2 linked regions of the Homo sapiens genome follow. The protein of the gene in region 2 purifies or fractionates together with the protein of the main gene of each other region. This does not show direct contact. Each region holds a gene or a part of one and is shown on either strand. Other genes may lie near its edges. The genes, in order: ZNF507 and AMMECR1.

The links.
Region 1: the proteins of AMMECR1 (region 2) and ZNF507 purify together in Homo sapiens (affinity purification with mass spectrometry; one large-scale study listed by BioGRID and IntAct). This does not show direct contact.

What each region holds. Positions count from the first base shown.
Region 1 is NC_000019.10:32,352,026-32,355,852, reverse strand, and holds part of ZNF507 (zinc finger protein 507), read right to left. Parts: intron 3,025-3,827; 5' UTR 3,023-3,024; coding exon 896-3,022; intron 1-895. UniProt on the Homo sapiens protein: May be involved in transcriptional regulation.
Region 2 is NC_000023.11:110,199,417-110,203,243, forward strand, and holds part of AMMECR1 (nuclear protein AMMECR1), read right to left. Parts: intron 3,121-3,827; coding exon 3,030-3,120; intron 1,635-3,029; coding exon 1,538-1,634; intron 1-1,537.

The sequences.
Region 1 (3,827 bases), on a different chromosome or scaffold from region 2:
TAAGTTTTTGTATTTTTAGCAGACAGGGTTTCACAGTGTTAGCCAGGATGGTCTCAATCTCCTGACCTCATGATCTGCCCGCCTCGGCCTCCCTCCTGTGACCTTTTTACCACAGCTAGACCCCAGCTCTCGGTAATCTGAGGGAAAAAGTCTACCTCCTAGTTAGCCCTTAGGATAACATTTGTAATACATTTTCAAGGAGTCACCTGGCCCACTGAAGAAAAGTTCTAAACCAATGATTCAACGTTTCCTTTATAAAAGAATAGCACTTCATACAGGATATTGGTTTTGATAAGGTCAGCACTTAAGATAAAAATCAGACAGTCAAAATAACTCTTGAAAGTTCTTTACCCTGCCCATAAAACATGACACACATGGCTCTATTTCCATGACAGTACCTTTTAATAGGTCCGCCATAGCCCATTTTTCCTTCTGCAATGATACACATCACTGTTGGTTATGTAGAAGCTGAACTGAATGCCTGGCATTCTGGGGCCATATAAGATGAAAAATATGTATTTTTTTGTTGTGATGATGTACGGTTAAATTTGTTTAAGTCAAACGTATGTCAATACGTTAAGTCAAACGTATGTCAATCCACTATACACTCCCTACAATTCTCTTGCAACAGAAAATCAACACTTTAAACTATACACACTAAAACACAGAGGCTGTCAAGGAGGCAGCAGGCAGGGAAAAGGATTCTACAGCAGAAATTCTGAACAGTCCCAACTTTAATACTGGTAAGTTGGGATCCCCTTGGGCAACTTATCAAACTTTTCTGGGACCCAGTTTCCTTATCTATAAAATGAGGTGATTGGATTAGATCTACAAAGTTCCCTTCTCACTCTAAGATGCGAAGGTCCTCTGAAAGACTTCCTGAACCAATGCTTACCTTATAATGGAAGGATTCTTCACACTGCTTGCACTGGTATATTCTTGTCTTACAGTGGTGGATCATGTGACTCTCCAAATCTTTGCTGTTGTCCGCTATGTGCTCGCAGATAGGACACTGATAAGGCTGTCTCTGTCGATGGACTCGTAAGTGCTGCTTGATGTAGCCCTTGTTGCCACTTGTGTAGTGACACAGGCGGCAACGGTAGGGTCGTTCAGCATTCGGGATGTATTCCACCACATTGTTTCCGGACAAACTTGTATCGCTGTTGGGTTGGCACTGGGCGTTGTCCTGCAACTCTTTCAAAATGTCATCGTCTGAAGCGTTTTGGTCTGTCCTTTCTCTCAATTTTTCAATGACGGTGAGTAAGGACATGCTGATGCCTGTCTTAACCTGCCCATCTGACAATTCCTGCCTACCCTCTGGGAGTGCTACCAAGGTGGAGTTGCTTTGGTTAAGACTAGTTAATCCATCTGAAGAGTTTTTAAGTGGCGACATCATTTTTGAGTACGCTGCCAATGTACTATCTACTTGCCTTTGACTAGTATCTGGATCTAAAAGGTTTATATCTCCATAGTGCCCCAGGTTGGCTCTTGTCAACTCTGCAGCTCTTATAGGCATTGTGACAAGGGCTTCTGCAGCTAATGAGTGTAATCGAAGAGACTCAGAATTTGTCCTTCTCCGGCCTGGTGGGGCATTCTCATCAGTAGCCAGGCCTTTATTCATTAACTCGTCTTTTTTCTCTGAACTGCTCCAGCCTATGATCAATCCCCCAATATCAACAGTACATTTATCAGCACGATAAACATCATCCATTCCTTCGCGCCCAATCTGAGCTTCTGTCAGGCTCAGGTCCTTCCCTTCTTCCATTTCAGTGTTCATGAGGAAGCGCTTCTGTGAAAGGGTTTCTTCAGCACTTGGCAATCGCTCCACTATCACGTTAACATGCCCTTTTTTATTGGGGCTGCTGCTGATGATTTTCTGTGCTGATGTAAGCAGGCTATCAGGAATCAGATTCTCCTCTGCATCAGAAATCACTTCTAGCATTTCTTCCTCATTGGGGTCCAGGGTAACTGACTGACTTAGGTGTACTCCTCTTTCTGCACTCTGTTCTAAAGGAGATGAAGATGATAACTGTTCTGAGCTGCAAATCTGCACTTGCACTGATGGCCCATTGTGGATACTCAGTTCACTCTCTCCAATAGCAATGACGACTGCATCGACCCCACCAGGCGCAGCAGCTGCTGAAGAATCCAGCAGGCCTAGGGGTTCATTTTCATTTTCAAAGATTGGATAGGAGCAATCAACCTCCCCAGCATGTTTCCAAGCGTGTGTTTTCAACATTCTCTGCTGGCCACAAGTATAACTACAAAACAAGCATCGATACATGCCGTACTGTTCGTATGCATACCATTTCCTCCTACCCATTTCTGCCACAGATGCAGTTTGGACAGTATGAGTCTGTAGATTGTCCACACTTACTGGGATATCTGGAATGGTTTCATTTCTTTCTGTGGTTTTCCGACACAAAGAGCTGGAGGGGCTTACGCACTGTTGGGCTTTGGATTGGGTGTGGATATTGGCATCATTGTCATGGTCATTCACCACGTGGGCTTCAAGTTCCTCCTGGCTTCTAGATGTAATATGGCACTCTGAGCACATCAGTATCACTTCATTTTGCTGACCATGTTGCTTAATATGATCTTTTAACACGGAAAAGGATGATGATAGAAACTTACAAAGGCTACACTGATAAGACATAGCCTTCCCTTCATTCTGGGCAAGAGTGTCAGGGGTAAAATTTGTTTGTGACATCTCAGCCCTTCTAGTATCAGCAGCAGGTGACTGGATTACTTTAGCCGGAATCTCACAAAGTTCTTGGGTTTCAAGAGAGTGTGTTGCAGCACTTGAACGTGGGCGTTTCTTCCCAATTAAAAGACATTTTTGTGACTTTTCATTTTCCACTATCTTGCTTAACTTCTGGATAACATGGATTAATGGATCTGGTTTAGTTTTTCTTTGTTCATCAATTTCCAATGAAGGACTGATGATACTTTCAGCAGTCAGTATAGCTTCCTGTTCCCCAATATCTGGCACCAACATGGCAACACTGCTACTTTCTTCCATATCTAAAAAGGATAATGTAAAACAGAAAAATACCAGGTTACAGGATAATTACAGGCATGTAATTTGGAAAATATAAGAGAATGTTAGTGTCTGTAATCTCATCTAAGTATTTTCTAAGCTGGAAGCTCCATGTCCACACACCCGGCGATCCCCAGTATAGATTTAAATTGGTTAGAATTTCTCTTTACAATGCAATCTTCTATCAAGACTAATGATGAAGATACTCCCCTCTATCACTTATTTCTTCGGAAATGATGATCTTTTTCTCCATTTTTCTTCACTTTCTTTGCCTTCAGCATCCAGCAGGACCAAAAGTACTCCCTCCCTTTTGCACAATGCCAAGAAAAAAAAAAAAAGACTCCTATTCCTTGATTAAAGGAGCACAGCCATTCTCAAGGCATGTGAAACCCCTCCAGTTACTGTGAAACATCACTCTGTAAAGCCAATGACTGATACAATTCTTGAGAGTATTTCTTATACCAAATATAGCTGCAGTTTTATTACTAAAATCACAAATTTGTTTTTTTTCTCCCCAAATCTTTGAAATTGTGAAACTATAGTCATGTAGTTTGTACAGGGCATATTGAATTTGGGAAAGTACTATATAAATGAAATTAAATAAAAGCAATAATCTAGTTCCTACTTTTACTTCCTTTATCTTCCTGAAGATAAACCACAAACTATGCTGTGGTTTTTTTTTAGAGGTCATATTAGTGGTCAACTATTACTCATATCCACATATATGGTTTTTTTTTTTTTCCCTGAAAGGGTAAGGGACATCAGAGAAGGAAAAAATTGATATCCC
Region 2 (3,827 bases):
CTGTCCCCCCACAGTGAACCCTATCCTTACAATTTCAATCATATCTAGCCATGAGCTCATACATTTTCATTGACCTACTAGATATTTCTATATAGATATCCTAAGAAGCACCTCAAATCCAAAATCGATGCATAAACTTAACACACTCCTCTTGTGGTCCCTACTTTGATTAAAGGGATTACCTTGGTCCCTTTTATCTAGATTAACGCCTTGACTTTCTTCTTTATTTCTAAATGATGACCCAGTCCTTTCATTTCTTCCACATTATTTTCATATCGATCCCAACCTTTCTTCCCATCTCACTGCCACAGCTCTAGTTAAGGCCCCTGTTGCACCTCTTTTGGACTGCTGCCACAGATTCTTAGATAATACCAACGCTTCCTGGCTCATTTTCCTGTTTCCAATTCCATTCTTATACCTCCCCAAGCCCATCTGATTAAAATCCTTCAATAGCTACCAATTGCCTATAGAACCAGGTCCAAACTAATTACTCTGGAACTCAGGACCCTCAATGGTCTGCCCAACCTACCTTCTGGGCCATATTTTCCTCTAATGATCAGCTTCTCTATTACACTAAAAGACCAGCCCAATCAGACTATTTCATATTCTCAGAACTTGCTTTGTACTTCACCACCCTTGACTCACAAGGTCTTCCTTAAGGGAATCACTTTCCTCCTGTCAAAAAAAAATCCCTTTTTACCTGTCAAATATTCTATCCATTCTTCAAACCCAGCCCCCAGCTGACCTCTTTGAAACTATCTGTTATCCCCCTCCCACCCTCTTAGAATTCCTCTTTCCCTACTTTATGGGAATGGATCTCATATTATCCATCATATTCTGCCTTAGATTAATAATTTTGTCCATGCCCCTTCTATTCTCCTCCACTGTGAACTCAGGGAGAGCAGAGATGGAGGTATTTCTGAATTTGTAACTCCTCAGAGCTGAGAATAGGCCATTTTTAGACTATAAGCATTCAATGTAGTTTTATGGAATTGAAATAAATGGAACCAGCAGCCCATTTTCCTAAAATGTACGGTATTTTCCTTTTTAAATAAGCATCCCTATTTTTTCATGCTGAAATTTATTTAGCATTTGAGTTTAGCTCAATTGTGTTTTTCAGCAAGCTAACAAGTTTTCTTGGTAGACTTCTATCACTGCCAAAATTCTGAGATTAAATTCGAATTTGAGGACTGTTTATCAGAATCCTGGGGTTCTGCTCAGTAATGTCAAAAGCTAGCCAATTGCTAATTCAAGTACTTTCTCCAATAAAGTAGTCTAAAATCTCCAAGGGCTTGCTCGTACAAAAGCCAGAGTAATCACACAGAGCTAAAGATGGGAAAGATAGGCTCATACATCACACAGGCTTTACTACGAAGCAGAGTTCCATTGTATCCACCCTCAGTATGACCCTGCCATTCATTTCCACTCTGTTTCAGAAAAAAGAAGTGTAGTTAGAGAGACCAAAGAAATCAAAGGGTTATAGGCATACACATCAAAATGTACAGGTTAGCCTTGTGCTAGAAAATGTCTTCTGTACCTGGTCAGTTTTATGGTTTTCCTGAATTCATTAGTAATCGGAGCTTTGTATCCTCCTTTCCTCAATAAGGAGTCTATGGTCTGTATATGGTCCCATCCTGTAGAGAGATGACCAGATAAAATATCAGTCAAGCACATGTAACAAACACCTTTCATTAAATACAAAATGACTTTGTAGAGGTCAGCTATCACTGTCACCAAATGCCATCAAATCTTTTGGTCCTAAAAACAATCACACAGAAAAGCTAAGATTTCATCCTTTACAAAAGCAGGGTCATCACCACACTCCTTAAATTCTAGCTATCCACAATGCCAAACAACACTGGCTCCTTTATCTTCGCATTCGAAGTCAAGGGGTCTAAGGGGCTGGCAGAAATTGCTCAGTCATGACTGTAACAAACCATATCTGTTGTACTTTCCTCTAACAGTGACATCTTTAAAAGGGAGTGAAAAGCCTATATGCCATTTTGCCAAGTCAATATTTAGGACTCCCACACCACCTCACAGTAATTGTTGTTCCTTATGGTATCTTCTGTAATTCTGTAATCATTCAAGTTTGTGTGCAGTATTCAAGGGTATTTTGATTAGTTCTGACATGGATGGTATACTAGTATCTGAGGCCCTCTATCTTTTATGTATGCTTTACAAAGTTAATGATACTAGGAGATTAAGACATTTTCTAAAGCAACCCAAATAAATCTTCAAGTAACTGCCTTGAAGACTTTCTGATCTGGGGATTTAATGGCATTAATTTTGCTATTATGTATCTCACATTTATAAGACAAACACGGGAAAACCAAATTACAAATGCTTTCTGATGAGAAGAAAAGCTCCCCAAGATAAAAGATTCATTTCGACCAACATGAAACCAGAATTTAGTAGTTGCTAAGAAAGGATAAAATACTACAGAGTGAAAAGTTACTTTGTGTTACAATGTTGGTTCATACAGGTCTATGCTCTATGTGTGAAACAGGAAAATTCTGATTAGGAAGTGTAGACCAAGCATATAAAACACTAACACTTCATGTTTTCGCAATCCTCTGATCTTAGTGGGAAACCTAGAATCTTAGTATCAGCAGGATGAGTAATGGCAACCACCTAAGAATGAAACATTTGATACTTAAAATGACAAAGAACTATGTGGCTGATTGTCAAACAAAAGGCTTGTTTATGCCACAATGGAATATGGGAAAAATGCATTTCAAATCGGTAGCAAATTGTTGCCTAAAATGAAAACCAACTAATATAAATTCTGCTTTTTAAAAAATATACACTTATGGGTTTATGCCATCAAACTTCAATGCAGGGATTCAACTTCTGTGAGTACTTCACCGACTTGATACAGACATTGCAGTGGCAGTGATGGAAGAGTCACTTCTTATAATTTGACACTTCAATTATTAGACATAACTGCAAGGTCAGATAACGCATTTCAGTTTGTATATTTGTTTAAATTCTTCACCAGATCATATGAAATAAAGTACAACAATGACCTTGCTCCTTTGCAACCTCCGGTAGGTAGGTGGCGGTGCGTTTTGATCCTTTTTCATTGATGAATTCTATTCTAATGCCATGTACACCCACCTGAAAGAAATTGGCAGTTTTATTAGTACAGTCTTCTTCATAGAATCAGAAAGAAAAGGTTATAATTTAACTTTCAAGAGAATGCAGTTCTTCCTTTCCCTTTGTTTTTAGAAGGACGTATAAGTTTTCTCTTTCCAAAGCTTTGACTTTGGATTTGAAGGCCATTATGATGGCCACGGAGAGGGAAAATATTGATTTGCATGTGCCCAACATGCACTAGGCTATGATACTATGTTTGGAAAACTGGAACAACTATTCTGAAGCTGTCTGTAGAATAAGACGGTTGATGGCAAAAATCCTGCCCCACTCCCAAATTGTAGCTCATGCCAATAAAGAACTAGAGACAAAGGTGACTGACTTCAAAGAGATAGCAAACAACCATCCTGTTTTGCAGGTACACTCACCACTTCTGATTAAGTTCCAAAATTTTTGGTGCTGATCCCCTCCCAAACTGTCTACTCCGTTTAAAACATTAAATTATACGTAGGCAAGCAAACACAGTCAGGTAAGATTGAAAATTAATAATGAAAACAACCAGATCCTACATCATCACCCAGTGTAGACAGCATTTCTTTAAAAATGCATTATGACTTAGAGTGGGGTAGTAGCAGACCTTCACTGTCCATCTACACCATTGTCTTCACACAGCTCTACTAAATTTAAGAATAAAGATTTCAAATCACTTCACTGTAGTGCATTATTGCAGT